Homo sapiens: one gene and its partners. The protein of the gene in region 3 interacts with the protein of the main gene of each other region in a pairwise test. Each region holds a gene or a part of one and is shown on either strand. Other genes may lie near its edges.

Evidence for each region.
Region 1: the proteins of ITGB4 (region 3) and COL17A1 interact in a two-hybrid assay, tested with the Homo sapiens proteins (one study listed by BioGRID).
Region 2: the proteins of ITGB4 (region 3) and SDC3 interact in a two-hybrid assay, tested with the Homo sapiens proteins (one study listed by BioGRID).

What each region holds. Positions count from the first base shown.
Region 1 is NC_000010.11:104,026,821-104,034,150, reverse strand, and holds the end of COL17A1 (collagen alpha-1(XVII) chain), read left to right. Parts: coding exon 1-206; intron 207-775; coding exon 776-913; intron 914-1,182; coding exon 1,183-1,245; intron 1,246-1,396; coding exon 1,397-1,477; intron 1,478-1,860; coding exon 1,861-1,916; 3' UTR 1,917-2,865; downstream 2,866-7,330. UniProt on the Homo sapiens protein: May play a role in the integrity of hemidesmosome and the attachment of basal keratinocytes to the underlying basement membrane. The 120 kDa linear IgA disease antigen is an anchoring filament component involved in dermal-epidermal cohesion.
Region 2 is NC_000001.11:30,903,164-30,915,317, forward strand, and holds the start of SDC3 (syndecan-3), read right to left. Parts: upstream 5,596-12,154; 5' UTR 5,424-5,595; coding exon 5,286-5,423; intron 1-5,285. UniProt on the Homo sapiens protein: Cell surface proteoglycan that may bear heparan sulfate. May have a role in the organization of cell shape by affecting the actin cytoskeleton, possibly by transferring signals from the cell surface in a sugar-dependent mechanism.
Region 3 is NC_000017.11:75,722,128-75,731,845, reverse strand, and holds part of ITGB4 (integrin beta-4 isoform 1 precursor), read right to left. Parts: intron 9,568-9,718; exon of another isoform or gene 9,419-9,567; coding exon of another isoform or gene 9,324-9,418; intron 7,153-9,323; coding exon of another isoform or gene 7,143-7,152; coding exon 7,064-7,142; intron 4,652-7,063; coding exon 4,569-4,651; intron 4,443-4,568; coding exon 4,341-4,442; intron 4,196-4,340; coding exon 3,991-4,195; intron 3,470-3,990; coding exon 3,373-3,469; intron 2,582-3,372; coding exon 2,410-2,581; intron 1,606-2,409; coding exon 1,342-1,605; intron 972-1,341; coding exon 882-971; intron 601-881; coding exon 478-600; intron 35-477; coding exon 1-34. UniProt on the Homo sapiens protein: Integrin alpha-6/beta-4 is a receptor for laminin. Plays a critical structural role in the hemidesmosome of epithelial cells. Is required for the regulation of keratinocyte polarity and motility.

The DNA of each region.
Region 1 (7,330 bases), on a different chromosome or scaffold from region 3:
TGCAGGCTCCCTGGGTGCAGGCGGTGCCTTTGGTGAAGCTGCAGGAGACAGGGGTCCCTATGGCACTGACATCGGCCCAGGCGGAGGCTATGGGGCAGCAGCAGAAGGCGGCATGTATGCTGGCAATGGCGGACTATTGGGAGCTGACTTTGCTGGAGATCTGGATTACAATGAGCTGGCTGTGAGGGTGTCAGAGAGCATGCAGCGTAAGTGGGGACATTTAGGCCTTGGTGCTGGGGGGAAGGAGCGTGGGAGCATCTCCAGACTGGCTTTCTTGTTTGTGGAACCCCCAGGCTGTGAAGACAGAATCAAGCAGGCAGGGGCTGGAGGGGACAGGCAGCCCCAGCCTAGCTCTCAGCCTACTCAGCTTAAGGAGCCCCAGTCCTGGGACCCGAGCTGTGGGGAACAGAGCACGCTGGGGGCTTTGTACTTTGTTTTCCCAACACCTAGCTCGTTCTGGGTCCCAGATGAGTCATATGACCATGCTGGATTTTCTGCTGGGGCCGAGAGAAGGATGTTGGCTAAGAGTCCTTTCCCCGCGCAGCTTAACGGCACAGTTACGCAGTCAACAAGCTTTTGATGCCGGCCCACAGCAGGAAGAGACCTGTGCCAGTCACACAGTGGAATACAAAGGAAGTTGGAGGGCTTCACCCTTGCTGCGGCTTGATCTAGTTCAACTGCTTTGGGAGTTTGACACTCGGAGGGCACTGTGCTCCTGCTGAAGAGGGTACTGGGAGATCCCTGCTTCCTGTGCCCAAGCTCTGGTGTTTTACAGGTCAGGGCCTACTGCAAGGGATGGCCTACACTGTCCAGGGCCCACCAGGCCAGCCTGGGCCACAGGGGCCACCCGGCATCAGCAAGGTCTTCTCTGCCTACAGCAACGTGACTGCGGACCTCATGGACTTCTTCCAAAGTAAGGGCATCCAACTGCTTTCCCAGCACCTGCCTCACTGCATAGGTTCCCACGGGTCTGCTCCAGAGACACCAGTCTCATGAGAAATCTCCAGTTATTAACATTTGAGATGCTCAAAATTAGACAAATTCTATAAATTCTGAACTTTGTTTCCTCTTACACGTCCAAACTCCATCACTATCTCTCTGTGTTACTCTGAACAAATGACTTGATGTCCCAAGCTTCCAGGTGATCAAGACTCTAAGGCCAGTGTTTCCTTGCTTTTGCAGCTTATGGAGCCATTCAAGGACCCCCTGGGCAAAAAGGAGAGATGGGCACTCCAGGACCCAAAGGTAAGTGGTGGCAGAGAGCCAGTCCCTGGATCCTGTGTTAACACCCACCTCGTACTGAAAAGCAGCTCCTGTGCTGGTGCCACACCGGCTACCTGTGCCCTCAGTCCCCAGACTCATGTATTACTTAGTTACGCCCCATTTTTCCTTCCAGGTGACAGGGGCCCTGCTGGGCCACCAGGTCATCCTGGGCCACCTGGCCCTCGAGGACACAAGGGAGAAAAAGGAGACAAAGGTAAGTGTTGACTGCTCCACGTTTTGCATGTTCTGGAGGGCTGCAAGGCTGACGCTCATTAGAGAAGCAGGTGATTTGTTCCAGAGCAAGCCTGAGAAATTCAGGCAAATGCCAATTACTCCAGGCAGACACTGCCAAAAGCAGAATTTGCATAACAATCCCATTCACAGTGAGGAAGAAAAGGAGAGTGTCAAAGCAGGGAGGAAAAGGAGAACCAAGCTGGTGTTGAAATGGGGCAAACAAGTTAAATAAATGTAGTCTTACAAAAGATTTCACCTTTGAAGCCATCTTTGCAGTAGTCACGGTTGCCATAATTGCCCAAGCCAAGATCCCCACAGGCCACAAGATATGTTTTAACTTCCTACTGATCTTCTAACTTTCAGGTGACCAAGTCTATGCTGGGCGGAGAAGGAGAAGAAGTATTGCTGTCAAGCCGTGAGCTAGCCATGGCAGGACAGCTCCTGGACCAGGTCTCATAATGCATGTGGCACTTAGGTCCAAGGTCTCCAGAGGGTGAAAGCTGGAGTCTGTCAATGTCCTACTGAGACAGCACAGCCAACCTAGCTAGCAACATTTGTTTTAGTCTGAACAATATATACTTATAGAATTCAGTCAAAGATACACAATCTGAAACAGCTTCATGGGGTGGACTCTAACAGTAGTTGCAATGTTTTAGAATGAGACTTACTTCTCTGCTATCTAGATCTGAACTCCTTGGCTTCTTTACTTAGTTCAAGCCCCAGCCTAGGAAAGCCAGTTACATAAAAGTTGGCTCAGGAGTCTTAGAGCTTTACCTAAATATGAGCCCAGAAAACGGAGGATGGGGGTGGGGCGCCTTCCTGGAGGTGACACTTGATGGGGGTGTGTTCTGGTTACTGTTCTAAGGCTGTGCCATCAGCTCCTTCCTCCCCTGTTCATTCTGCATTCTCTAGTCAGTTGGCTAAGAAGTGACTCTTGCAACTAAAAAAATTAAGAAATTCACTTCCCCTCTAGGAGGTGATGATAGGGTTTCTAATGGTTATATGTATATCACATTCCCATTTGCTTAGAAAGTCTGATTGTAGCTATGATTGTCCGTAGGCCCATACTAGAGTTCATGGATATGTTATACTGAACCAGGCCAGAGCAAACAGAAAAAGAAGGTTGAGGGCAATGGACAAGGAAGGAATAAAGGGAGAAGAGGGAAAACAGAAAACCTGATGCTGGGGACACAGCATCAGCTCAAGACGTCACCCTCCATTCTGCACTCAGAAAATGGCACTTGGGGGACTGGGCGCAGTTGGTCTTTAACCACTTTTCAATGTCTAAAAACATTTGTTTGTGGTCTATAAGATGAAACATCATTTCAATCGTAAAATTTCCCATTAAAGAAGTTTTTTTTTCTAATATCATGTTTAATGTGATTCGTCTGACCAAAGAAAGATTAAAAAATAGTCTGGGTTAATTGGGTCTGATTCTAACACTGTTTATTACAAACACAAGAAAACAAAAGTGGTTGTATTTTGGGGCATAGCTTCTGGTATTTCATTCAATCCCTGAGGTCTTCAAAGGCAAATCTTTAGATACCTGCAACTATGAACTCAATCTGGGGATTTTACAAAGCACATGAAAGTTTTCCCCAAGCATAAGTTATTTGAAATAAACATGCAACAAATGAGCAAGAAGATTACTTGCAATTAGGTAGTGCTTTATCCTGGGGCAATGGAATTATGATTGTAGGGCAAGTAATATATGGAATATAGAAACTTCTATTAAAGAAAAATGTACAAATCTCAAATGCCCCAAAGAAATGCACAGTAAAATCAGACACTCCAATTGAGAAGAGACTCTACTTAGCCACTTTGTGAATTTGTTACAAGTTGTGACTCTCAAATTGCTGGATAATTAAAAATGGGATTAAATTGCATCTATTTCTACACCACTACTCTTCTAAAAAGACTTTATTTTCCATAAGGTCTCTGCTGAGTATCTCATATTATCCCAGAAAAAACACTCCACTTGTTTCCTCTATATCAAACAACCGCTAACGGCAACAACCAGTCAAGCACTACACACTCTACGTGGTCTTTTTGCCTCTTTTATTATATCCTGATAATTGCCTGCTATGAATTAATGAGAATTTTTTAAAAATAAGGCTGGGCGCGGTGGCTCATGCCTGTAATCCCAGAATTTCGGGAGGCCGAGGCGGGCAGATTGCTTAAGCCCAGGAGTTCGAGACCAGCCTGAGCAACATGGCAAAACCCCATCTCTACTAAAAATACAAAAAAATTAGCCGGCATGGTGGCGGGCACCTGTGATCCCAGCTACTCGGGAGGCTGAGGCTGAAGAATCACTTGAACCCAGGAGGTGAAGGTTGCAGTGAGCTGAGAACGTGCCACTGCACTCCAGCCGGCAAGACTCCATCTCAAAAAATAAAACAAAAATAAAATAAAAATTAGTTCATACAGCCTCCAGATTTCAAACAACTTGAGTTTTACTAAGCAAAACTATTGTGTATAATAAAGGAATTGTGCTTTTTAAATAATTTTTTTTCAAAAGAATTCATTAGTTTTACCCAAAGGCTGAATTTTTTACTTTTTAATTGTAGCTTTTACACTTATTAAAAGTAACTTCCAAAAAAAGGGGGGAAAAAGATGTTTTGACCCTTTAAAAAAAAGTAGCTTTAGGGGTTCAAGTATTATATCCCCTTTAATAGTGATCCTTATCTTGATTAATCAAGACATAGGAGTTTTTTCCTTGTTACTAGATCTACCTAAGATACCCAAAGTCTTCATCAAGTTTTAGCTCAAGTAAAATAGGGTACAAGTCCAAACTTACTACCTTCTCTGGACAAAACTCAGAAAGAGGATGGGCAGATATGAGGTTATGTCCTCAGCTGGATGGCAATGGATGTTAGCCTCTTTTGTTTCATTTTTTTTTTTTAAGTCAAGAATGAGCTCAATAGTGCACAACGCTCCCAGATTAGAAAATGACACTCCATGCCTCCCTCCAGCTGGACACGTGCCGAGTGATGCTGCCTAGCGTCTACTGAATCTTGCATGAACGTTATCAATGACGAAGAGACTATTTTTGCAGAAGTGAGGTCATATGATTTGTGAAATGCTTGGTGAGAAAAATCATCCATCCCAAGAGGAAAAGAAATTAAAAACATACACATATATACATAGGCTGATAGAAATATTTTAAGCACCTCCCAAAGGAGGGGTTTGCATTCTGAAAGACAACCCCCAGCAAGTTATCACTAAAAACTACATTTGAGTGTGTGTGTGTTTGCGTGTATGCTGTGGACTACACACAGCTAGGAATACTAACTCTGGAAGGGTCAGAAGACCTGCGGGGACTGCAAGTTTTACAATATAACTAGGACCAACAACTGCAAAGTGTTCTCAGGCAGGACACTCCAGTTTCAAAGATTCTCAATAAAAGACTGCTTCCCAAAATTGATTAAGAAATAACTTTATTTTTCATGTGTCAATCCCATGATTGAAAAGACATGTTGCTCTCAAGTAGATAAGAGGCATAATCTTAAACAAAATTCTTTCTGAAAATTTAGCTTATGAACTCATTACACTGCAAACCAGAGAAGGAGCACAAAAAGCTGCAGCCCACATTGAAACCTGGCAAACACTCTCCGCCAAAATTAGTAGCAGGAATGTTAAAGCTTTATCAAAAACATGTCAGCAACGGAATAGCAACAATACAGCCATTAACTGTTGTGCCTTCAACTTAAGAAAAGCATTTAAAGAATCACCCCATTTCTTATAAAAATCATTTCTCAGAAAAGAATTGTTAATCAAAAGACTATTAGAACTGGAACTCTCTTCTTTCACTTCAGTTCTAGATTTTCTTTAATCAACAATATCTCTAGTTAATACTTGGACAGAATTTGGCTTCTCAGAAGAGTCTTTGTCATTTAAGCACAGTGTGGAATGGGAAAAAGTGTATAGTTACAAGGAAACTAGAAGAGTACAAAAAAATAGTCACTTCTGAAACTCGCTGATGCTCAAGAAATCAGAGACCCTTCATTAAGGTGGGTCTCATATGCCTGAGAGCTTTGTGCTTGAGGAAGTATGACTTAGAGGTAGCTCTGGTTCTGGTAATTTATATTTAATTATAATTTGCTGTATCCTGTCACAAGAGAGTTCTAATATTTTCAGCAAAGTAAAAGCATTCAACATTTTTTCCTTACCCACCCTATAGCTTCCCCATAGAAAAAGATAAGAAAAAGCTTAATGTGACTCCACATAGAATAGCAGCTAATTCAGCAATTCGCACTGTATGGTTGTTGACAGGACTAGGAAAGGCAGCCTAGTGCCCCAAGCTGTAGGAGCTGGATCTGCAGAAGTGTGCAGGTCTGCTGTGTTCACAGCACTCAGGGAAAGAGGGGAGGAGGTGGCTGATGAGGGTGCACGTTCGGAGAAGTCTGTATGTGTTTCATGGCATATTCTGCCACAGCAACAAAACAACCAAATCAGCAGTAGATTTGACTGTACCCTTCGATTTCAAAGAAGTCTGCGCCCCTCGCCCACTCGCCACCTACACTTCATGCAGGAAAGATAGATCACTATCATCTATTTGAATACAGGGCCTCAGAAGAGGTGGGCTGGTATGGGTACAAACAGCGTATTTTATAACAAAACACTTTTTGAAAAGATTTATATAACTTTAAGTATTAAAATGAATGCTTTACCTCTACATATGTATCACTGTACAGTCTTGCACCCACACGATTATGGTCATATTTGAAAGCGAACTCAAGCACAAACACTGAATCCAAAAGGCAGTTTTAAGGGAGATCCAACCTTACCCACAGCGCCAACCATTCCACTCTGAGCCTCTCTCCTTGAGTCAATAATCTGAATGTCAAGTTGAAAGGAACAGAAAGAATCAAATATTCAGACCAAATTAATCAGGCACCACACACTATTTAGCGCACAGGGTATCAATTAAATGATACTAGAAAAAAAATGTCTACTGCCTGAGGTATTCATTTTTTAAAAGTCAATAAACTGAAAATTTCAAAGGAGAAAGTGGTATGAAGACGTTCCTTCCCAATCCCTCTTCAAATAAATCATTAAATACACTGGGCAACATTATACTGTCATTTTTATCATAACAATATAAACAATTTTTATCATCATCCTGAATATTACTTTATAAAGATATATATTTTAAAAGGCTTTCAAAACATTTTTCAACCCAGCATTTGAGAATAAAGCATTAAGAGTTTTGTATACAGTAACACATTCATGTGATAAGTGTATGAATTTACAACCATACATAATATGTATATATGTATATATATTTATATAAAAAACAAACTTGGCCAGAAGTTAAGGCTACCTACGAAGTTGTCCAAGTAAATTATGCTTGTCAAAACAATTATAAAATTCAAATCACACATGCATTTTTAAATCATCTAAATCACTGACAAACAAGGTTCAGCATCCAAAGTTTTCAAATTAACTGCAAGAAAGTGCTACAGACATTTACATTTTCTAAATATGAATCAGTGTTCCCACAAAGTTACATTTAAATTTTTCACCAGCCTCAAAAGTAATATAACTGAAAACAAACTTTCACAATTTGGTACCTAGCACTCTTAAGAGAGAATAGGTTGAAAATGGCAGGCAGCAAGCATCATTCACAAATGTGCTGTCTCAGACAGCAAAGTACAGTTTATAATACTGTCTGACCTGACACGTGGTTGAAATTCTAAGCCTCATAAGGGACTAGGAGTGAACATTTCATTAATAATTACACACACCAGCAACCACATGATAAAGGCTTCAGGCTTTTCCCACTCAAATCAAAGTGAATGATTTAAACATGGAACAAAATAAAACCAAGACA
Region 2 (12,154 bases), on a different chromosome or scaffold from region 3:
CAATGGGGCCAGTGCTCAGAGATGGAGCAGGAGGAACACGGATTTGGCCTCCACACACTTTCTAAGGGCCAGAGGGGGTTAAAGGCAGGCCTGGTCACCTCTGCAGACTCAGTCCCCAACACTGGGGGCATCTGGCACATATCAGGGCTTATGGTGGCTTTTTAGACCCCTCTCATCCTGAGATTCCAAACATTTCCCCTCTCCTGTGCCCTGACCACATGACCCAGACATAAACTCCCTTCCGCATACACATGTGTGGGCACACACACAAATGTACACATGCACGCACACACAATCTTGCTGACAGCCCTTCGCAGTTTATAAAGCTCTCTCTCCCCACCCCATACACCCCCAGTGGCCCTCAGAGTAGCTGCTTTTATGGGCTACAGAGCCTTGGGAGGCGGTAGATGAGGAAGAGCCCTGGCCAATCCCTCCCACAGGGTGAGACAGCATCACTGACCTCCAGGGCTGTGGGAGAATTAAGTGAGAAAAGATATGGGACCAACCCCCTTCCCAGCCCCACCCCGCCAGAAGAGCAGGCATTTACTAAACAGTAGCTAATGCAGACATAATCCAGGGGGTAGGGAGGCCCCAGAGAGGTAAAGCAGCTTGCCTAAGATCACACAGCAAGAGGGGGTAAATTTAGGACTGCAGCCCAGTCCCATTAGCCTGTCAGGCCCTGGCTCATACTAGCTCTGCCACTTCTGGCTGTGTGACTTTGAGTAAGTCACTGAGCCTCTCTGTGCCTCAGTTTTCTCCTCTGTAAAATGGGGGTTCTGGCTGGGGGTTGTGGCTCACAACTGTAATCCCAGCACTTTGCGGGGGCCGAGGTGGGAAGATCACTTGAGGTCAGGTGTTCGAGAACAGCCTGGGCAACATGGTGAAACCCCATCTCTACTAAAAATACAAAAATTAGGCAGGTGTGGTGTCAGGTGCCTGTAATCCCAGCTACTTGGGAGGCTGAGGTGGGAGAATCGCTTGTACTCAGGAGGCAGAGGTTGCAGTGAGCCAGGATCATACCACCACACTCCAGCCTTGGCGATAGAGACTCTGTCTCTAAATAAAATAAAATACTAAAATGAGGATTCTAATAATTCCTACATCAAAAAATTATTGTAAGGATGAAATAAGCCGATACATGTAAAGTGCTTGGTGGGCGGGGCTCTCGGTAAACATGACCTCTCTCTCCCACTTGGGATGAGCCCCCCCTCGCTCTCCCCACCACTGCCACCACTCCTGCTGCCCCGGACCCCCCAGGGACCCTATGCCCGCTTGTATGAGGTGGGAGGAGCCACTGGGTTTCAAAAGGCCATTTTTTTTGTTTTTTGTTTGTTGTTTTCTTTCACTTTTTTTTCCAGCACAGCTCACCTCGCACCAACCCCCAACACACTGAACTCACAGCTGGAGGCATTGTGCTCACTCCTCCCCAGAGAGCAGGAGGCTTCAGGTTCAAATCCCAGCCCTGCCTTGAGGATAGAGTCACAGCCCCCAGTAGTGATTCTAAAAGCCAAGTATTTGTTGCCCCCAGTTGACAGGTAAGAAAGCTGAGGGTCAGGGCAGGTTACAGCCTGCTACTGTCATGTGATGACCACTTTCATTGCTTAGCTCAAAACCCTCCTCCTCCAGGAAGCCTTCCCTGACCCCATCCATGCTCCCTCCCAGAAAGGTCCCATCTCCTGAGAGCTCACTACGTGGCAGGTGTGCTCGGTCTACTCAAGCAGCTCATTTCCAAGTCACAACATCCCTGTGAGGCTGACACCATTACTGTCCGCATTTTATAGACAAGGACTTTGAGACAGAAAGAAATCCCTCACTGGAAATCACACAGCAGGTGTCTGTCCCCAGAGCCCCTGGTACCTTGGGAGCTAACAGGCAGCATACAGCTGTGGTGTCCCTGTGCCTGTCCCCCAAATGCTGGAAGGGGAGATGGTTCACCCAAGAGCCTGGCCCAGAACAGCCCAGGGGCCCCCAACTTTCCATTTTTTTGGTGAGGACTATCTCATCCTGGAAACCCAAGGCTCACAGTCACCCAGGGGAGCCTGGAGGGGAGAAGAGCAGGGATGCTTGAAACAGGGTGAGGAAGGAACGGAAACCACCAGGCCTGGGGCTGAGCTTCAAAAGAATTCCCTACTAATTCCCCCACCCCACCCCACCCCCACCCCCACCCCCATCCGTACTCTCTCTCTCTCACAAACACACACACACACACACACACACACACACACGTCTCCCACCCTTCCACTCCCCACCCCTCCTGCCTTCCCAACCACAGTACAGCAACTTTGTAAAAGAACAAGAAATCCATATTTGTTGAGCCCTTAGTAGGTGCCAGCCACTGGGCTAAAAGCTTTCCAAATTAAGCCCTTCCATTCTCGCATTGTCTCCATTTTAAAGAGGTGGAAACTAAGGCACAGAGAGGTTAGGTAACTTTCACAAGGTCACACAGCCACAAGGTAGTGGTCTCCCATCACTGGGAGTATTCAAACAAGACTAACACCTAAGATCCCTTCCAGCCCTGGACTTTTGAAAGAACATGTTTCAAAAGCTAAAATGTTCAGGATCCTCACACTCCAAAACTTTGAGTGGTGACTTAAGTACAGTAGCTGAGGTGGCCTTAAAGGCAGATGTCCCTCAGAGTCCTGGTAACTTGGTCTGTCAGAAGAGGGACTCCTCAAAGGAGATGCCAGGAGACAGACACAGACACACAAACACACACACACACACACACTGCAATTCACCATCTGCAGTGTGAATGAGGCCTGCTCTCCCTGCTATCCCCATGCTGAAAGACACGAAGACACACACACACACACACACACACACACAAAGGCTGGCAGGTGACCCAAGGGTCATCATGTCCCTGCCCTTCCCTGCCCTGTGCCAGCCACCGCTCATCTACCAAGGCCACCCCTGGAGCTTCCCTGGCTGGGGCTCTTCTGATCTAACCTCAGTCCCTCCTGCTGCAGGCACTGCCCTCTCCCTCTGGTGCGGAACCCCGGCAACCAGGTACCACCCATTAACCCTTTTCCTCCCAAGTCAGATGAGGACAAGAGGGATGATGCCCCTCCTTGACAGCTTGACCCATGGGAAGATGTGAGGCCTGGAGGACACTCCACTTCCCACCACCTCACCAGGCGCCCCAGTACCTGCCCTCCCCCAGGCCCCACCCACCATTTCAGCCTCTGGGCTCAGACTCCCAGGGTCTGCTTGATCTGCCACCCAACACTGGGTCTGAGCCACACCTCTCAGATTCAGGTCACCCGTGTTGCGAGGCCCTACTGTGCATGAGGCTATTAAATGCTCTCACTAAGTCCTTCCACCACCTCGTGGAGTATGAATTATTAGCCTTATTCAGCAAGGAAAGTGGCCTGCCCAGCGCTCCACCTGGCCTCCAAGTCTAAAGCTTTCTGTCCTGAGCCCCTTTCATTCATGTGCACACCACATGACTCCTGAGCTCCTTCTCAGGACACTCGTCAGTCATCCCATTGAATTTTTGCCCTCTGAGGAAGGGGTCATTAGCCCCATTTCACAGAGGGACAACCAAGGGTCAGAGAAGTAAGAGGACCTGCCCAAACCATGCCACGAATCGGCGGGGGTAGCAGGATTGGAACCCAGGGTTGTGTGATTCCCAAGCCTTTGATTTTAAGGATGGTCTTTCAGAAATTTGGCTGAGAAGGCGACCCCAGCTGCTAGGGTGTGCTGGGTCTCTATCCCTCCCAGGGACCTCTTCCTCTCACCCCACTTAGGGGAGAGCTGGGAATGAGACATCCTGGCCAGCAGGCACTTCACACAGGTCAGCCCTCAACACTTCCCCTCCCTCCAGCTGACAGCCCCCTAGATGGGGAAGGCTGAGGAGGGGCCTGTCCATCCAAGAAGCAAGCTTGGAGCCCCTGCCTGTCCTCCTCCTGTCTTACTGACTGGCCCACTGAGGCTGGGAAAGGGAAGGAACTTGCAGAGGGCGGCTGGGCACCCAGTGTTGCTTGAGAGGCCTGGGTCCTTTTCAGCCTGGGGGATGCAGGACAGCATAGCTCCTGGAACCAACCTGGGAGGCTGGACCTAGAAATCCCCAGCCCGCCTGAGCCAGAACCTGGACACTTGTCCAACAAGAACTCATCTGGGGCCTGGATCCCTCAAAGGGGGATGAGGTCCTTCCTTTCTCTGCCATCCCTGACGGAGCTGGGACCAAGCATGGCTGCTACGGTCACTCAAAGGGACACTCAAGGGTCACCTCATACATACCATCACCTCCACCTGCACATGCTTGGTTCCCCTCAGGGGTCCTCGTCCTATGTCCAGGGTCCCCCATGCACCTGCATGCACACGCTGCTATGTGCACTCACACACATTCATGGGTCCAAGCACACGCCCACCAGAGGTCTTTCACACACACACCCTCACCCACTGCAGCCACACACGGCCATAGCCAACAGTGGCCCAGCCAGGCACAGGCACACATCATGCACAATGGGTCACCCTCCCACGACCACGGACGGGAGGGCACGCTGGCATCCACCCATGTGGCAGACACATCCTTCACCTGCACACGCCCCACAGGTCCCCGCACCCCTCACTGAGTTGGCCACACACGCCCACACACGCCCACACACAGGGTTACCCTCACTCCCCCCTCAGGTCACCTTCACCAAGTCACCCTCCACCTCCACCTCCCCTTCCCGGGCCCACTGCCCTGGCCGGCTGCCGCGACCCTGGGAAGAACCAAATGCACACCCTCCCCTCGGAAGGGGAACCGATCCGATTCCCAAAAAGTGGCCATGGTCTGGGCACACCCACGAGGCAAAAGCCAGGCTCACTCCCACCCCAAGACACACCCAGCCGGGACGGCGACCCCCAGCCCGCCGCCGGGTCCTTCTCGCGCCTCCCAGGCCAGCGCAGGGGTCCCGCTTCGTCCCCGGGGAGACAGTTCCCGGAGCCACTGGGAGGTGGGGGAACAGGGCTGAGGACCCGCGATCGGGTTCCCTCCCGGGATTCCCTCTGGGGAGGGGTCCCAAAAGGAAGGAGAGATGCGCCCCCCGAAGATGACCAGCGGCGGGGGCGGCCTCTCCCCGCGGATGCCAGCTAGGGGGAGATTCCGGAGGGGGGGGAGCAGGGTGCAGAAAGGGGCGCTCGGGGGAGGGTCGAGGGGTGGCAGGGACCGCGGCCCCGGGGGAAGCAGCCGGGGGGGAGGGAGCGGGGTCCCGGAGGGGGGGTCGCGGGCGGGGACCGGCACCCCGCGCGGGGGGCGGCCCCGGGGAGCCGTGGCGGGGATCCGGGCGCGTGTCACTCACCCCCGCGGCGCGCCCCGCCAGCAGCAGCAGCAGCAGCGGTGGCAGGAGCAGCCCGCGGGCCCCGGGCCCGGCCGCGGCCCCGGCCCCGGCGCCGGCCCCGTGGGCGGCCCCGGCACGGTGCGGCGGCCCCGGCTTCATGGCGGCGGCGCGGGCGCGGGCGGCGGGCGGCGGGCGGGCGCCTTTGTTCCCGAGGCGCGGCGCGCGGGGCGGCTGCTTGGCGGCGGCGCGGCCCGGCGGCTGGACCGACGCGCTCTAGGCTCGCGGGCTCCCGGCTCGGCCGCCCGGCTCCGCCTCGCAGCTCCGCGCCCACAGCGGCCGCGCCCGCAGGAAGCGTGCGCCGCCGCCGCCGCCGCCGGGCCGCCCCCAGCGCGGGCGGAACGGAGGAGGGGCCCGGGGCGGGGCGGGCCCCAGTGCGCCCCCCGCGGGGCTCCGCGCCCTCTGACCCCAGTCCCAGCCCCCGCCCCCACCCAGAGGGAGCCCCGCGCTGCCGAGTGGGCACCCGGACACCTGAGTGAGCAGCCGGCCTCGCCGATCCCGGGGCTGGAGGTCGCGGAGCCCGCCGGACGCACCTCCGCGGCCGCCGTGCTAGGTAGAAGGGAAGGGTCCCGCGTGGGATACCAGGGCCCGGGCCTGGCTCCCTGAAGTCGCCGAGCGGAGGGGTCGCATGGGCGTTTTCATCTACAGCCTCCCCCTGTGGCTCCACGCACGTGTCTCTTCCTGGACTCCCATCGTCACCCTCACACACTCAGCCAGTCCACCCAGTGGGCCAGAGGTCATCCAAGACCACGGGCTTTCATGCCTCCAGGACACCCAGGGGCTGTGTGACCTCAGATCAGGGCCCGGCCCTCTCTGGGCCTCGGTCTCCCCAGGGGACCATGGGGGTGGTCACTTCTGGGCCCTGTCACTGTGGATCTGCAGAGGAAAAGCCACGCAGACCTGAGCGCAGCTGCTTCCACACCAGCTGTGCGCCTCCAGCAAGGCCCCCAGTTCTCTGAGACTCAGACCCCCCATGGTTGAATGGGACCACCCCCTCCAGTGCAGGATGGCGAGAAAAGTACATCTCTGAGTGGCAGTCTCTAGCGCTGGTGGTCTTTCTACCCTGTGTGGTCACGGTGCCTTTTCCCCCTTCACCTTCATCCCCAGCGGCATACCCCATGCTGTTCTTACTTCTCCAAGTCTCCAATGGCGTGTTAGCTCCAGCGGGGGCAGGGTTTTGTGTCTGTCTTGTTCACTGCTATGTCCCCAGCACCAGCACAGAGCTCGGCATGACATCGATGCTCAATCCAAATTTGCTGAATCAATGAATGTGTTTCCCATTTACTGGGGCTCAAAACCAAGTGTTTTGGGGCAAGATAGGGGAGAGTGAAACATTTCTGGAACCCTGACCACATGCCAGGTGCCCAGCGCTTTCATGTGTTATATCATTTCTCAGGAACCCCATAAGGTCGGTCTGTCAATATCTTCACTTCTTAGGTGGGGAAGCTGAGAGCCAGCAAGAAGAGGTTATTTGCTGATGACAGCTGGCTGGACGTCTCTACCCTCAGTTACTCTCCTCTCTGGCCCCTGTGTCCCAGCACCCAGCTTAGAGCCTGCCATTAGAAAATAGGAATGAAATCAGGCCGGTCGTGGTGGCTCACGCCTGTAATCCCACCACGTTGGGAGGCCGAGGCGGGTGGATCACGAGGTCAGGAGATCCTGGCCAACATGGTGAAACCCCGTCTCTACTAACAATACAAAAAAATTAGCCGGGCGTGGTGGCGGGCGCCTGTAGTCCCAGCTACCAGGAGGGTGAGGCAGGAGAATGGCATGAACCCGGGAGGCGGAGCTTGCAGTGAGCCGAGATCGCGCCACTGCACTCCAGCCTGGGCGACAGAGCGAGACTCCTTCTCAAAAACAAAAAAAAAAAAAAAAAGAAAAGAAAAGAAAATAGGGGAACGAAATTGAGTTGAAACTGGAACAATTCCCTCAAGGAAAGGGGAACCAAAACCAGGATGAATGGAGGGGCAGGCCTTGAGGAAGAGACTCTGGGGGACCAGCCATGGGTTTTTGGTGTTGGGGGTAACTGTACTTGTCCTGCAGGGCCCTTGGGAGGAGGACCAGGGGACAAAGGTCAACTCAACATAAAGTAGAGATAAATTAGAAGGGGCTCCCCAGGAGGGAGGGAGAGCCCAGTCCCTAAAGGGTATGAAAGGCAAGCTCACCACCCTTTGACAGGGATCCTGGACAGGGAAGACAGGGAGACTTTCGAACTAGGAATTCTGAGGTCCCAGCCTCTGAAAATTCAATTCTCAAATCTTTTGGCATGACATCAATGCTCGATCCAAATTTGACTGGCACCTTGGGGAGATGGGCAGGGAGGCTGATGGGGTGCAATAGGTGGGAAACTGGTTTCTGTTGAGGTAGCACAGCTTGGAATTGAAGAGCTCTGGCTCTGGGTCGGCCAAGTATCTGGGTTCAAATCCCAGTTCTGCCAGTTATGAGCTGTATTGTGTTGGATGTGTGACTTAACCTCTCTGAGCCTCAATTTCCCAACTGTAATATAGAGATAATGACCACGCAGAGTTCATTCATTCATTCATTTAGCAAGCATAAATTGGGTGCCTGCTGTGTGCCAGGCCAGGTACCAGGTTGTGAGGATTACATGAGCTCTTCCCTGCCATCGTAATGGAGTTCAATGAAGGTGGCTGGGAATGAAGCTTACAAAGGAAGGGACTCAGATGTAGGGATAACATCATCCTTCAGAGATGCTGAGCAGATCCCAGGAACATACCAACCCTGAGGCGCTCCCAAAGGGCCAGCAGGGTTAGGGTGGGGATTATGAGGAGCCAGATGTCAGCTGGCCACAGACAGCAGTGGCAATTCTAAGAGGCAGTAAGTATCCTGTCTTGAGAGGTATTCAAGGCTCGGAGAACTATCTAGCAGGGAGACCATTAGGATGGTTTCCATGAGTAAGATGGGCAGTGAGCATGGCCCATCTTCAGAGGTTCCTGCCAGCTCTGAGACTTCTGGAAGCAGCAACTCCACTTCCCTGACATCCTGGGGAAGAGGTGGGGGCGGGGCAGTGGAGAATCTTTGGTCTGGACAGGCCAGGAGCGCCACCTGCTGCTCTTCAAAGACACTGGTCACAGCCAGAACTAAGACAGGTCTGGGCCCCTGAAGGTCCTTCTCATCTTGCTCCCCCCGGGTCCCAGGTCTCCCTGGGGTTCACAGATGCACACATTTCCTGCCCTCAAGCACATGGGTCATCTGCACAGTCACCCTTGCCCAGGCCTCCTTGTGCATTGGAGCCACATCCCCACATACTCAGGGTCTCCCTTCATAGCACCATAACCTCACCCACAGGCACCAGCTGCTGCCGCCTCCTGGCACAATAGTCACAGCCCCCTCCGGCCTTTAGAATACACACTGCCTCCTCTGGGAAGTCTTCCTGATGTCCTCTGGGTGATCAGGCCTGGTCCTGTCCTGCCGGCATCCTGATCACACTCATCCTGCACTCCCCACCCTGCTTTCAGTCCCTACTGTCTGTCTTGCTCAAAAGTGGGAGCATTCAGTATCCCAAATGAACAGTAGCTATAGAAGGGCCCAAGTGGAGCTGATTATGGGCCAGGCACTGCTCTATCAAATGCACACTCACATTAGCCCCATTTCCAGATGAAAAACCAATACACAGAGAAGATAGGAGATATGCCGAGGCACCACGACTGGCAGTGAGAGCTGAGATCCTGACCCAGGCCAACAGTTAAACTGCAATGCCAGGCCCAGTGGTGTATTGGGAGGCGTTTGATGAATGAATTAGAGTCACCGAGGGGATTCACACAGTCACACACCAACATGCAGACATACTCATGCAGTCTGGCCCCTGGGGAACCCCACAAGGCACGCCTAGTGGCTACATCTCAACCTTTCCACCTCACCCCCACCCCAGTCAGAGCCTTCTCTGCCCTTGACAGGGCCTCCTAGCTCTAACCAAGCAGCAGAGGGGTGGGGACGCCTCAGCGGCATCTCTGAACTCCACTCAGGTGAGCCTAAGATGCCTTATTCAGAGTGGCACGCCCAGGCCTGACACAGAGTGGGTGCTCAGTAGCTGTCACCTGACTCTACCTGTCCCCCAGGGGATTGGCTAAGACAACCAGCTCTCTGGACCTCAACAGTCCCATGGCATCCTAAAAGCCAAGATTGATGGAGGCCTTACTACCTGCCAGGCACTGTTCTGAGCACTTGCCAAACACACCCTCATCTACTCCTCCCCACAGGCCTGTAATTTGGGCACGACAAGCAAACTTGCCTCCCAGGGCTGCTACTATGAGAACCAAATGAGCGGCCAGCCCTGGAGTCCGGCACACAGTGAGCCCTGTCCAGGTGCTTGCTCTCTACTTCGTCCCATTTCACAGCTGGGGAATCTGGGGCTCACAGGAGTTCAATAATTTATCCCAGGTCACCCAGCCAGGAAGTGGGCAGCCAGGATTTGAACCAGGCATGTGATGACAGAGCCCTGGCTTTTCACCCTGTGCTGAGCTGTCCCCCGTGGGCAGAGGGGACTTTATGATCCTTACCAGACCTCCCAAACACAAGTGCTGTCTCAGCTCAAGGCAATCACAGGGCTTGCAAAACAAGTCCCGGCCTCCCCTCGCCACCCCCATCTCCATCCTGCTCCCTCCCCACCCCAACCATCTCCCACCACAACTTCCGGTCTTGCCCAAGAGTCAGGATGGAGGCCACAGCCCAGGCTTGCTTCTGAGAAAGTCCAAGTGACAGCAGTCTTGGAGGTCAGTGACCCCCAAAACTGAGGAACCAAAACAGGGCTCTGACAAGAGGGCTCCAGATCAGGAGGATCCCAAAGTCCTCCTAGGGGAAGCTGGGGAGACTCAGAAGCCATCTGGTGCCCCAGTGAGTGGAAATCTCACTGGGGAAGGATCTGCAAGGCCTGTGGCCGGACCAGGGTGACTGGGAGAAGGCTTGGCCTTCCCACAACAGGGGTCCTCAATCGTGGGGAGCCTCCTGCCCGCCGAAGGGACCTGGCCCATATGAGGGTCTCACAGAGCCATGCCCCGCCCTTAGTACAGAGCCAGGCTCGGCCAGCCTTCCCTGACCTCCCTGTGTGCTGGGAAAGTCCTTGTAGGGTGAGAGGGTAGGTGACACCCCAGGACACATGGCTGCTAGACACAGGTTAGGATTTGAACTCAGGCCTCTTCCAGGTCTGTGAGCTGAGGGTTTGCAAACTGTAGATCCCAAAGCGTTCCTGAGGGCTGGTGGATCCCCAGGTTCCTCAGGGCTGGTGTGCGAGGAGGGGGAGTAATCAGATTTTGTTTGAGCTCTGTGGCCTGTAGGTCACAGAGCAAGGCCTGGGCTGGCCTTGTAGGAGGGAAGAGGCTGTGTAGACTCAGCAGGGCCTGTGGCTGAAGAAGCCCCAGATTGGCAGTCGGGGAGGGGAGCTGCTTGAGGGGAGAGGAGAGCTCTGGGACTCCAAGCTGGGTAGGGGTGGAAACAAGGTGGGTCCCACCTCTGTAGGGTCTGAAGCTTATACGGTTTGAAGGGATCTCGAGTACACAGTTAGGAAGAAGGCTTTGGAAAGCGGCTGTGCAAATGAAGGGCCCTGAAGCATCAGCTTCATTTTATGGCAAATGTGCCTCTGAATGGCCACCCACCACCCCGCCAGATACTATCGCCTGAATCCAGCAAAGTCAGAGGTGGACTGGGCTGGGCGTTGGCTCACGCCTGTAATCGTAGCACGTTGGGAGGCTAGGGAGGGCAGATCACTTGAGCTCAGAAGTTCAAGACCAGCCTGGGCAACATGGCAAAACCCCATCTCTAAAAAAAAATAACAAAACAAAACAAAAGAAAAAAAACACGAGCCGGTTGTGGTAGTGGGCACCTGTGGTCTCAGCTACTCAGGAGGCTGAGGCAGGAGGACCACTTGAACCTGGGAGGCAGAGGTTGCAGTGAGCTGAGATCATGCCACTGCACTCCACCCTGGGCAACAGAGCAAGATCTTGTCCCACAAAAACAAAGGAAAAAACAGAGGGAGCCTGGGCAGGGAATGGCTACCTCCTCTCTGAGGGAATCTAGGAAGGCTTCATGGTGGTGGTGGCGACATCTCCCCTGGGCCATTGCAGGCAGGCCTTGGAGAATTGGGTGCTTTGAAATGGTCCTACAGGGGCTGAGCCCTACCTGGGAGGAGAGCCTCTAAGGCCCTGAGCTCCAGCTTGAGGCTTCATCCTGACATCGTGTGTGGACGAGGCTGAGAACATTCTGGAGGCTTGTTCCCTGTGATCTAGAATGGACAGAGCAGGCAGGGCCTACTTTAACTGCCCATTTCATAGAAGAGAATACTGAGGCCTTAAAACGGAATGTGACTGACCCCAAGGTCACATAATAAGCCTGTGGCAGAGCTGGGACTAGAACCCAGGTGGCTTCACTCCTTGCCCTGGGGCCTTTCTCTCTTCCACTCCCTTCTCCTGGACCAGCTGCTCTGTTTTGACAGAGCTCTTAGGATAAGCCCCCTCCCCAACCAAGGTCTTCATTCAAACCCACAGGCCGTCCCACTCTGTCCATCGAAGGTCACAGGACTAGGAAATGACCATTGGCAGAGCCCAGGCCCAGGAGCTGTGCTCACACACCTGCCCTCTTCTCTGTGCAGAGGTGGAGAAGCTGGGTGAGGAGAGAGGAGGGGAGGAGAGAGAAAGGGGAGGATGGGAGGAGGGCACTGCCCCAGAAGCCATTCCAGGAACACACCCCCGTGCCTGGGAATAAACTGCTCATTTAGAATCATTTTCCTGGAACCAAAAATATGCCTCCCTAAAAATATATTTTCTTTCTCACCTCATTCTGAGGCTGCAGCAGCTCAGCTGCCTCTAGGAGGTGGGTGGGGG
Region 3 (9,718 bases):
GCTCAAGGGCCCGCAGCTGCACCTGGTATATACCCTGCAGGGGCCCCGTGGTCAGCCAAGGCAGGCCCAGCCCCAAGGACCAGGGGGCCATCGATGCCTGAAGGCCCTCGGCCCCCAAGTTCCTAGGAGATGTCTGGATCCCTGAAATGAGCTCCTGCTCACCTCCCTCAGGGCTGGAAACTCCCTCCTTCCCAGCGCAGTCACAATCATAGCGACAATGACAGTGGCCAGGGCCTCTGGGCTTCGTGACACTAACCCATTTACTGCCCCAGCAAGCCTCCGGGCTCGACGCTTGCATGCCGAGGAAACCAACAAGCAGAGGAGCAACCTAGGCTCATCCGAGCGGCTAGGCCCAGGGATCTGCACCCAGGCCTGCCTGACTCCAGGGGCCACGCTCTTGACCGCTGTTTTAAACGATTCCACTCGGTGTGGGGCGCTGTGCCTATCCCCCACCCCGCTGCCCCCACAGAGGCGTACCACTTCCCCCCGCCGGATGTGAAAGGACCCAGTCCTCGTCTTCTGGAACATCTTGGAGGTGACCTCTGTCCGAAGGCCTCGGGGGCTGTCTAGGGCCCGGATGTCCAGGTTGGAGCGGATCCGCTAAAGGAGGAAGGAGGTTGATCAGTGCTCTGTGGGGGGCCTCTGTGCTCCACCCCAACCTCCAAGTGTGGCTGGCATCATGCGGGGTATCACAGAGCCTGCAGGAGCCAGGGCCAGGCCCAGGTGGCCCCTCGGGGCCTCAGGGATAGCTAGAGACCCTTCCTCACTGGTCTGTCCCAGACCCATTTCTCCACCGTGATCCAAGACACCTCTTGCCCACCCTGCCCACTTCCTGCCCTGCCCCAGAAGGGCTCAGACTCTGGAGCCTGAGCTGCCCTCACATTGAAGGCCTCCTCCAGCAGCTCCACGATGTTGGACGAGTCCTCCTGCAGCACCCCCAGTGAGGAGACAGGGAAATAGGTGTGAAGCTTCTGCGGGAGAGAAGGCCAGGTCTCAGGCTAAGCATCTCCATGAATCTGAACAGCTCTAGGATTCTTCCCACTTTGAGGATGGGGAAACTGAGGCCTGGAACCTACTGTGGTGTCGCAGAGCCTGCCCTCTTAGCCCCCACCTGCTTGGGAGTTGGGGTGGAAGATGGGCACATGACCTCCCCTTCCCACTAGGGCCCACATTTTGGGGGGTCTAAAGGCTTTGGGAAGGGAGGAAGGAAAGGGAGGAAAAGAGGGAGGGAGGAAGGGAGGAAGGGAGGGAGGGAGGGAGGGAGGGAGGGAGAGGTGTCTGAGAAGCTCCATGGACCCCCTACCTTGACCACCTCCCACCCGTGGGACCTGGGCCCCGCACCTCGTAGTAGCTATAGGAGTAGTTGGTGACAGCAAAGATGGGGATGATGTTGTGCTTGGCGAGCAGGCGCACCAGGGTGGGCACCGACGGGTAGTCCTGTGTCCTGTACTGGGTGTAGGTGCCCGTGGTGTCCAGGTGGCACCGTTCATCGTTGCGGCTCATGATGCCAGCCAGCACGTTGGCGCCATCAGCCTCATAGTGGAAGGCTGACTCGGTGGAGAAGACCAGCAGGTGGGTGCTGTCCGGGCGCCAGCCAATGTCCCTCTGGGGAAGGCAAGGCGGGGCGTGCCCACTGAGCAGGCTGCCTGCTGACACGCATCACGGCGTCGTGTAGGACGGGGAACGCGGGTCCCAACATGGGGCTGGGCTTAAGCCACTGGATTCACAGCAAGTGCCCTCATGAAAGATGCATCTGACGGCACATGACTGAGTGACAACGCTGAGAAACAGGAGCTGGAGATGCGGCCCCCGCAAGGCGCTGGGGCCACAGGCGTGCATCACACCCAGCTAATTTTTGTGTTTTCTGTAGAGACAGGGTCTTGCCATGTTTCCCAGGCTGGTCTCAAATCCTGAATTCAAGCAATCCCCCCGCCTCGGCCTCCCAAAGTGCTGGGATTACAGGTGTGAGCCACCACGCCTTGGCTAGCTCTTTGTTTTCTAACCTAGTAATATGGGTATGTCATTTTCAGAATGAACAAATGGATGTACATATCAAAGGAAATGGCTTATTTGGATGCCCAGAACAGGTGGAGTCTGGGCAGCTGGTGGGTTCAGGGTACTAAAGATTCCAGAACGCTAAAGCCCAGGTCTGCCTTGGTAGCTGATACGAAACCAGGCTGTGACTGCTCAGGCCAGGGGACCGTGGCTCCAGGCACATCTGAACTCAGATTGTAACTGAGACCTACTCACAGAGTCTGAGCTTGTCTCAGGGTGAAGGGGTTGCAGGCTCCCAGGCTTTCCCTCAGGGCCTGTGAGCCTGGCACCAGAGCAGGCCAGGGGGCAGCTCAGGCCCTTGCCCAGAAGTGCTCACCCCTGGCCTAGGCTGGCAGCACCCTTCCCAGTGCCCACCGTGCACACAGCTGTCTGCAGGATGGCATCGAAGCCGCCCTCAGGAGCATCCAGGTTGCCTGAGATCCGCTCTCCCTGCAGTTTATTCCGGAACTCATCCACATCTTCTGTCAGGCTGATGACGTTCTTGAAGGAGAAGGGGGGGTCACTGTTGGGCCAGGGCTCCTTCAGCCTGGGCAGAGGTGGGAGGGAGAGAGAGTGTCACAGGGGGAAGACGCCGCAGACCCCAGTGCCCCTGGCTCGTTTCAACTAGAAGGAGAATTTTTTTTTTTTTTTTTGAGACCAAGTCTCGCTTTATCACCCAGGCTGGTGTGCGGTATGCACGATCTTGGCTCACTGCAACCTCTGCCTCCTGGGTTCAAGTGATTCTCCTGCCTCAGCCTCCCAAGTAGCTGGAATTACAGGCGCCCACCACCACACCTGGCTAATTTTTTTTTTTTTTTTTTTTTTGTTGAGACAGAGTCTCATTCTGTCGCCCAGGCTGGAGTGCAGTGGCGCAATCCTGGCTCATTGCAAGCTCCGCCTCCCGGGTTCACGCCATTCTCCTGCCTCAGCCTCCCGAGTAGCTGGGACTACCGGTGCCCACCATCACGCCTGGCTAATCTTTTGTATTTTTAGTAGAGACGGGGTTTCACCGTGTTAGCCAGGATGGTCTCGATCTCCTGACCTCGTGATCCACCCGCCTTGGCCTCCCAAAGTGCTAGGATTACAGGCGTGAACCACCGCGCCCAGCCAATTTTTGTATTTTTTAGTAGAGATGGGGTTTTGCCATGTTGCCCAGGCTGGTCTTGAACTTCTGACCTCAGGTGATCTGCCCGCCCTGGTCTCCCAAAGTGCTGGGATTACAGGCATGAGCCACCGTGCCCAGCCGTAGAAGGATAATTTTAAGTTGTGGGTGAAAGAGGAGTGGGGGTCACATGGCCTGGACCCTTGCCCACCTGCGGGACCCACACAGTCACTTACTTCTCAGGCCTCATGTCCGTCTGCGGGACGCTGACTTTGTCCACAAACTTGCCAAATCCAATAGTGTAGTCGCTGGTGAGCTGGCTCAGGACCCGAGCTGGATGTCAAAAGGACAGAGAGGGGATAGCTGAGCCCTGATGCCTGGCATAAACACGGGCCCCCCACCAAGGGCTGGCTCAGAAGGGAGGAAGAGGGAGGTTAACGCTTTGCATGCTGGACAAAGGTTCATGCTCACAACATTGTCTGTTCCTATTTATGGATGAGGGAAATGGGACTGGGGGTCTGGAGTTATGCGTACAGCAAGGGCAGGGTGGCTGGGAATGCAGCCCAGCTCTGAGGAGCAGAAGCTTCCCCACAGCCTCGTGGCAGGGGGTGCCCTCCTTGTCAGGGCCAGATGGCTCCACTGCCCGCCTGCCCTGGGCCTTCTCAGAAGTCCCCAGTGGTGAGTAGGGTCTGACCGAGATTCTTCCCTTGAGAATGGAAGGGAAGGTTTTTGGGGGCTCAAATGTCCAGTGTTTCCTTCTGGGTGGGTGCAGCTGTCCTGAGTCCTGGCCTCCCAAGCAGACGCCCACCTGTCCCCCTCCTGCCCTGCTGTCCTCCACTCTGGCCCTGCCGTACCCAGGTTCTGCCCCATCTTCTTGAGGTTGTCCAGATCATCGGACATGGAGTTGGAGAAGTCCATGAGGATGTACAGGTCCACGGGGCTCTCCAGTGGCTCAAACACCTCCAGCTCAAAATGCCGCTCCTCACCGGGCCGCAGACGGACCCGCAGGCCTTGGGGGGACATCTGGCTGCGCCGCAGGGTGGTGTCAATCTGGGTCTCCTGCAGCCAGTGGAAGGGGACAGCTGGCTAGAGGGTCACTCCGGAGGCCCGATGGGGGCCCAGCCCGGCCAAGGGGCACTATACACCCCCATAAATAGCCAGGCTGAGCATGGGGAGCCCCCACCCCAGTCCCCACACCAGGCACCTCTGTGATTTGGAAGCTGCTCTCCATGACCACGATGCTCTCCCGCTGGCAGCCCGCGGCCAGCAGCTCCGCCTGGGTGTTGCAGCGCCGGTCCCTGAACATCTGGCCAGAAGGACAGGGGGTCACTGGGGGCAGCACCCATTCCCTGGCTGCCCCAACCCTAGATTCATTTCCACCAGCTATTCCCGACCCTTGCCTGTTCCACACCAACCCGGGCCAGGTCCTCACCTCGTCTGTGCAGTAGGCGCAGTCCTTATCCACACGGACACACTCCGTGCAGCTCTTCACTGGGGCCTTCTTGCAGCGGTTTGCTGGGGGGACAGATGTGGGCACATGAATGGGGAGGCGCTCAGCAAAGGCAAGCACTTTCCCACCTGCACCTTCACCTGGAGAGATGGGGATTCCCTCCTTATGTTATTTATTTATTTATTTTGAGACAGAGTCTCGCTCTGTTGCCCAGGCTGGAGTGCAGTGGCGTGATCCTGGCTCACTGCAAGCTCCACCACCCGTGTTCACGCCATTCTCCCACCTCAGCCTCTGGAGTAGCTGAGACTACAGGCGCCCGCCACCACGCCCGGCTAATTTTTTGTATTTTTAGTAGAGACAGGGTTTCACCGTGTTAGCCAGGATGGTCTCGATCTCCTGACCTTGTGATCCACCCGCCTTGGCCTTCCAAAGTGCTGGGATTACAGGTGGGAGCCACCGGGCCCGGCCTTATGTATTTATTTTGGTTTGTTGTTGTTGTTGTATTTTTATTTTGTTTTACTTTATTTTTCAGACGAGTCTTGCTCTGTTGCCCAGGCTGGAGTGCAGTGGTGCGATCTCAGCTCACTTCAACCTCCGCCTCCCAGGTTCAAGTGATTCTCCTGCCTCAGCCTCCCGAGTAGCTGGGATAATGGGTGGGCACCACCATGCCTGGCTAATTTTTGTATTTTTAGTAGAGATGGGGTTCCACCATGTTGGCTAGGCTGGTCTCGAACTCCTGACCTCAAATCATCTGCCCGCCTCAGCCTCCCAAAGTGCTGGGATTACAGGCGTGAGCTACTGTGCCCAACCTGCATTTCAATTTTATTTAGTTTTGAGATACGGTCTTGCTGTGTCGCCCAGGCTGGAGTGCAGTGGCATGATCACAGCTCACTGCAGTCTCGACATCCTGGGCTCAGGCAATCCTCCCACCTCAGCCTCCCAAGTAGCCCAGCTAATTTTTTATTTTATGTAGAGACAGGGGCTCCCTATGTTGCTCAGGATGGTCTCATATTCCTGGGTTCAGGAGATCCTCCCACCTTGGCCTCCCAAAGTGCTGGGAATTATAGGCGTGAGCCACTGCACCCAGCCGTTCCCTATTTTACAGAGGCCAGGGGTATGTGATCTGCCCCAGGTAGCACAGCTAGAAACAAGCTGTGATTTCAAACCTGGGACTTCCCACTCAAGCCAGAAGGACAGAAGGTGGGGACTGAGACAGTGGCACTGGCACACTCGGTGCTGGCACACCCTGGCCACCCCCTGGCCTGCTGCCTCCTCAGGTCCAGCCAGACGGTCCTCAGCCTTCCCCATTACCTTTGATGAGCTGCACCTAGCACCCTTTTCAGGTACCTCCTCCATCACAGCTTGTGCCTCACGGCGAGACCACTGCCACATGGCCTGTCTGTCCTCTGAGCCCCTTCTAGGGTGAAGGGAATGGTGTCTTGTTTATCACGGTAGCCCTAGCACCCGGCACACCTGGCACACAGTGGGTCCTCAGTAACGAATGAAGTAAAACTCTAGATTTCCCTTTGGCTCTGCTCAGTTAAAAATCACAGTGAGGACCTACTGTGTGCACCTGGTGTACACAGTAAGAGGTCTCCTGGGCTTCAGGCAATGGTGTGCTGGTCAGTGTTTAACAATGGCTGTGGTGGCCAGTGCGATGGCTCACACCTGTAATCCCAGCACTTTGGGAAGCCGAGGTAGGAAGATTGCTTAAGCTCAGGAGTTTGAGACCAGCCTGGGTAACATAGTGAGACTGTCTCTACAAAAAAATTGTTTTTAATTAGCCAGGCATGGTGGTGCATGCCTGTGGTCCTAGCTACATGGGAGGCTAAGGTGGGAGGATTGCTTGAGCCTGGGAAGTTGAGGCTGCAGTGAGCCACGATGGCATCACTGCATTTCACCGGGACGACAGAGTGAGAGCATGTTTCTACATATACATTGAATTAAATAAAAAAATAACAACGGCTCTGGTCTCTGGTGCTTGACGTGTAGCGTTTGCCAATTTCTGTGGTGTAAACATTTCTGTCGTGGTCTATTTCAAGCCACCAGCAGGACCCCCTCTAACAGACAAAATTCAAGTGGTAGGAGCTGGCTCCAGTGATTTGTCCACTAGTGACACTCAGAGAGCAAGTGACACGTCAGCAGTGCCTCTCTTCTCCAAATTCCTATAACCCTCTTGACTACACCTCTGGGGCCTCAGTGCATCCTCTGGGTGCCTCAGTCCTGGGTGGGTGTCTCCTCTTTCCTCTAGACACAGCCTCCTTCGCTCCTATTCTCAGGCCCCGTGGTCAGGGCTCAAGCTTCTCTAGGCTGAAGAGCTTGGAGCCTCAAGTTTTCCAGCCCTGAAGGTGGGCAGTGGTCAGTTGCTGAATGGCCAAGCGTGTTTAGGTGAGACACCGTGAGATCCCCGTGCAAGGGCAATGCCTGCCCAAGGGATGATCCTGCCAGGAGGGGGCTGCAGGGCAACGTGGACTCACCCAAGGTCCCAGAGAGGCTGACGCTGATCAAGGCTGCCAGGAGCAGCCTGGCCCATGGGCTGGGGCGTGGCCCTGCCATCCTCTTCCTCCTGCAGAACAGCAACAATTGACACATGAGGCCTCCACAGCCATGGTCGGTGCCGTCAGCTTCCTCTCGCTGCACAGCTGTGGGAACTGAGGCTCTGAGCACCAACAATGTGACCAAGGGCGCCCAGCCGCCAGAGGCAGGGCCCTGGGCCTCGGACTCCTGCCTTTTCCGCTGCCCTGTTCCGTGCCATCCCTGCAGTGGCCTATGCCCTGCCCCGGGAGGCCCCCTCCAGCCCTCAAGGACTCTGGTTTGCGAGTTTGTCCCAGTGCCAGGCCTCTCAGCACTGGGCTCCCTGAGGGCAGATGTGGGTTTATTCTTCTTTGCCTTTTAGCTCCCAGTGAGCCTGGGTCAGGCTTGGCCATGACAGGGTCATCCAATGAGGGTGCCTCCCTGAGAGGGGGCCGCAGCTCTGCCTCCTGCTCCTTCTGTCCTGGCCCACTTACCCTTTGGTGAGGGTGGCACAGCCGGGAGGAGAGGGGCCCCTCCCAATATCTGGGGCCTGGGGCTGGGCCACAGCTGCCCGCAGTGGCTTACTGCACCGGGTTGGGTTCTGCAGTGACTGCCCGGCCCATCAGGGTGGGGTCTGAATCATCTGCCCTCCCCTGTACCTCTGCCTGCCCCAGAGTTAAGTTTTCTGGGCCCCTGAGCTGTTCACCCTTTCACAAGTTAGCCCAGAGTGAGACATGCACACACACTGTGGCTCCCCTCAAGGCGTCCCCAGCGGCTGTGGGTTCAGTATTAAACCATCCTAAGTCCTCAGCGGCCTTCAGGGCAGGACTGGACATCCCTGAGGCCCTCTAAGAGATGCTCAGCCTGAAGCCTGGACAAGAAAAGAGGCTGGCGGCAGAGCCATCCAGGCCTGCAAGGCCGGGGCAAAGGTGAGCACCGCGCCTCTTTCTCTAGGGCCAGGTCTCCCAGGGGCCCAAGCCTCTGCCCTGCCCACGGGCCCTCCCCATTGAATCCTGTCTCAGCCCGGCTTCTGGGGCAGTGGCCACCCCAGGGTCTGGGGGCTGGGGTCCCCGAGGTGCTGGAGAAGCCCTTCTCAGGCCAAGGGCAGGAAGGCGTAGCCTGCTTCTAAGGCGTGCAGCCTGGAGGAGGCCACAGCAGCGCCAACACATGCAGGTCAGACCTGTTGTGGCACAGGGACTGGGAGGCAGCCCTGAGCCAGCAGGGAAAGGGTGGGGACAGCAGGGTTCCTAGAGGGAAATGACTTCCTTGCAGCCTCGGGGTGTAGCCGCCACACCCACATGCTACACAATACAGGCTGCAGGCTCAGGCCTCCCAGGCATCATTACACAGGCAGGTACAGGCCTGGAGAGCTGAGCCCAGCTCTTCCTCCCACTGTCCCTGGCCACAGCCCCTCAGGCAGTGCTGATTCCCACACTGTGACTGCCATATGAGCCCAGGGCTTCACGGAGGAGATTGCTCAGCACAGGAGCCCGGCGGGAGATGATTTCATTCTGCCCGTTTCCCAGATGAGAGACCAGGCACAGAAGGCTGTGGAACTTCCCCATCCCGCGGACAGCACTGGGAGGGCCAGGACAGGGCCCTGCTCTGCAGGCCCTGCCTTTAACCTCCATGGCAGCCTCCACGCAGAAGCTACAAAATGGCAGTTAGAGGGTTGGCGAGGCACCCAAGAGTGTTTGGCTTCATTTGTTTAGAAAGTTTTAAAAGTAGGAGCCAATGTTAGAAACAACGAGATTTCCCATAAAAGTTAGGAATTTGTGTTTATCATTAGATGTATCACGATGGGCTGGGCCCAGCGCTCAGGACACCTACTCTCCAGGCGGCCCGGACCCCACCAGGCTGCCCCGACTTTATGTACCAGCAGGTCCCTGGAGTGTGTGACTGCCACCCTGAATGCCATCACACTGCAGCACAGGCAGTTTCCCCCCCACAGGGACACACACACACACACACACACACACACACACACAGGCCATGCCCACCCACCCACAGGCTCAGAGCTCCCCTGGCCCCCATCCCAACCCCTGGGGACCCCTCTGGGCACACCTGCTCCTGTCCACTATCCTCTCCCGCTGTCACATCTCCTCCCCTCAGGGACCCAGGCCCTTCCTCGCCCCAGAGAGGCAGCTGGCCAGAAGTCTGGGGACCCCAGGCCCTTGGCTGTTCTGTCTCCCTGAGAAATCAGGGTCGAGTAGACAGACATACCTCCCCTCCTGTCCCTCCTGCTGTCCTTCCCTCAGCCCCCAGGATGGAGACTCCAAGCCTTCACTGCCAGCTCTGTTTCGGACAGCAACAACCATGCCACCTGTGCCTGGTCCTTGTCCTCAGGGTGTGGCAAGGCCATGGGGGCAGAGGAGAAGCCCTGTCCCTGCTCCTGGGAGTCACCAGGAGCCCCAGAGCCCCAGTCCCAGCCAGAGGGCCACCCCAGAGGCTGAGCCATGGGAAAGAGGGCGGATGCTGCAGGAGGTGGCAGTGTTGGGCACAGCCCTGGGGCTGGTGGGTGAGGCCTGTAGAGCTTCCTGAAGGAAGGCGCCTGGGGCTGACTTTGGGAGGAAGGCAGGCCTGTGCTTGGCCAAGAGAAAAGGAAAATCAGGGACTCC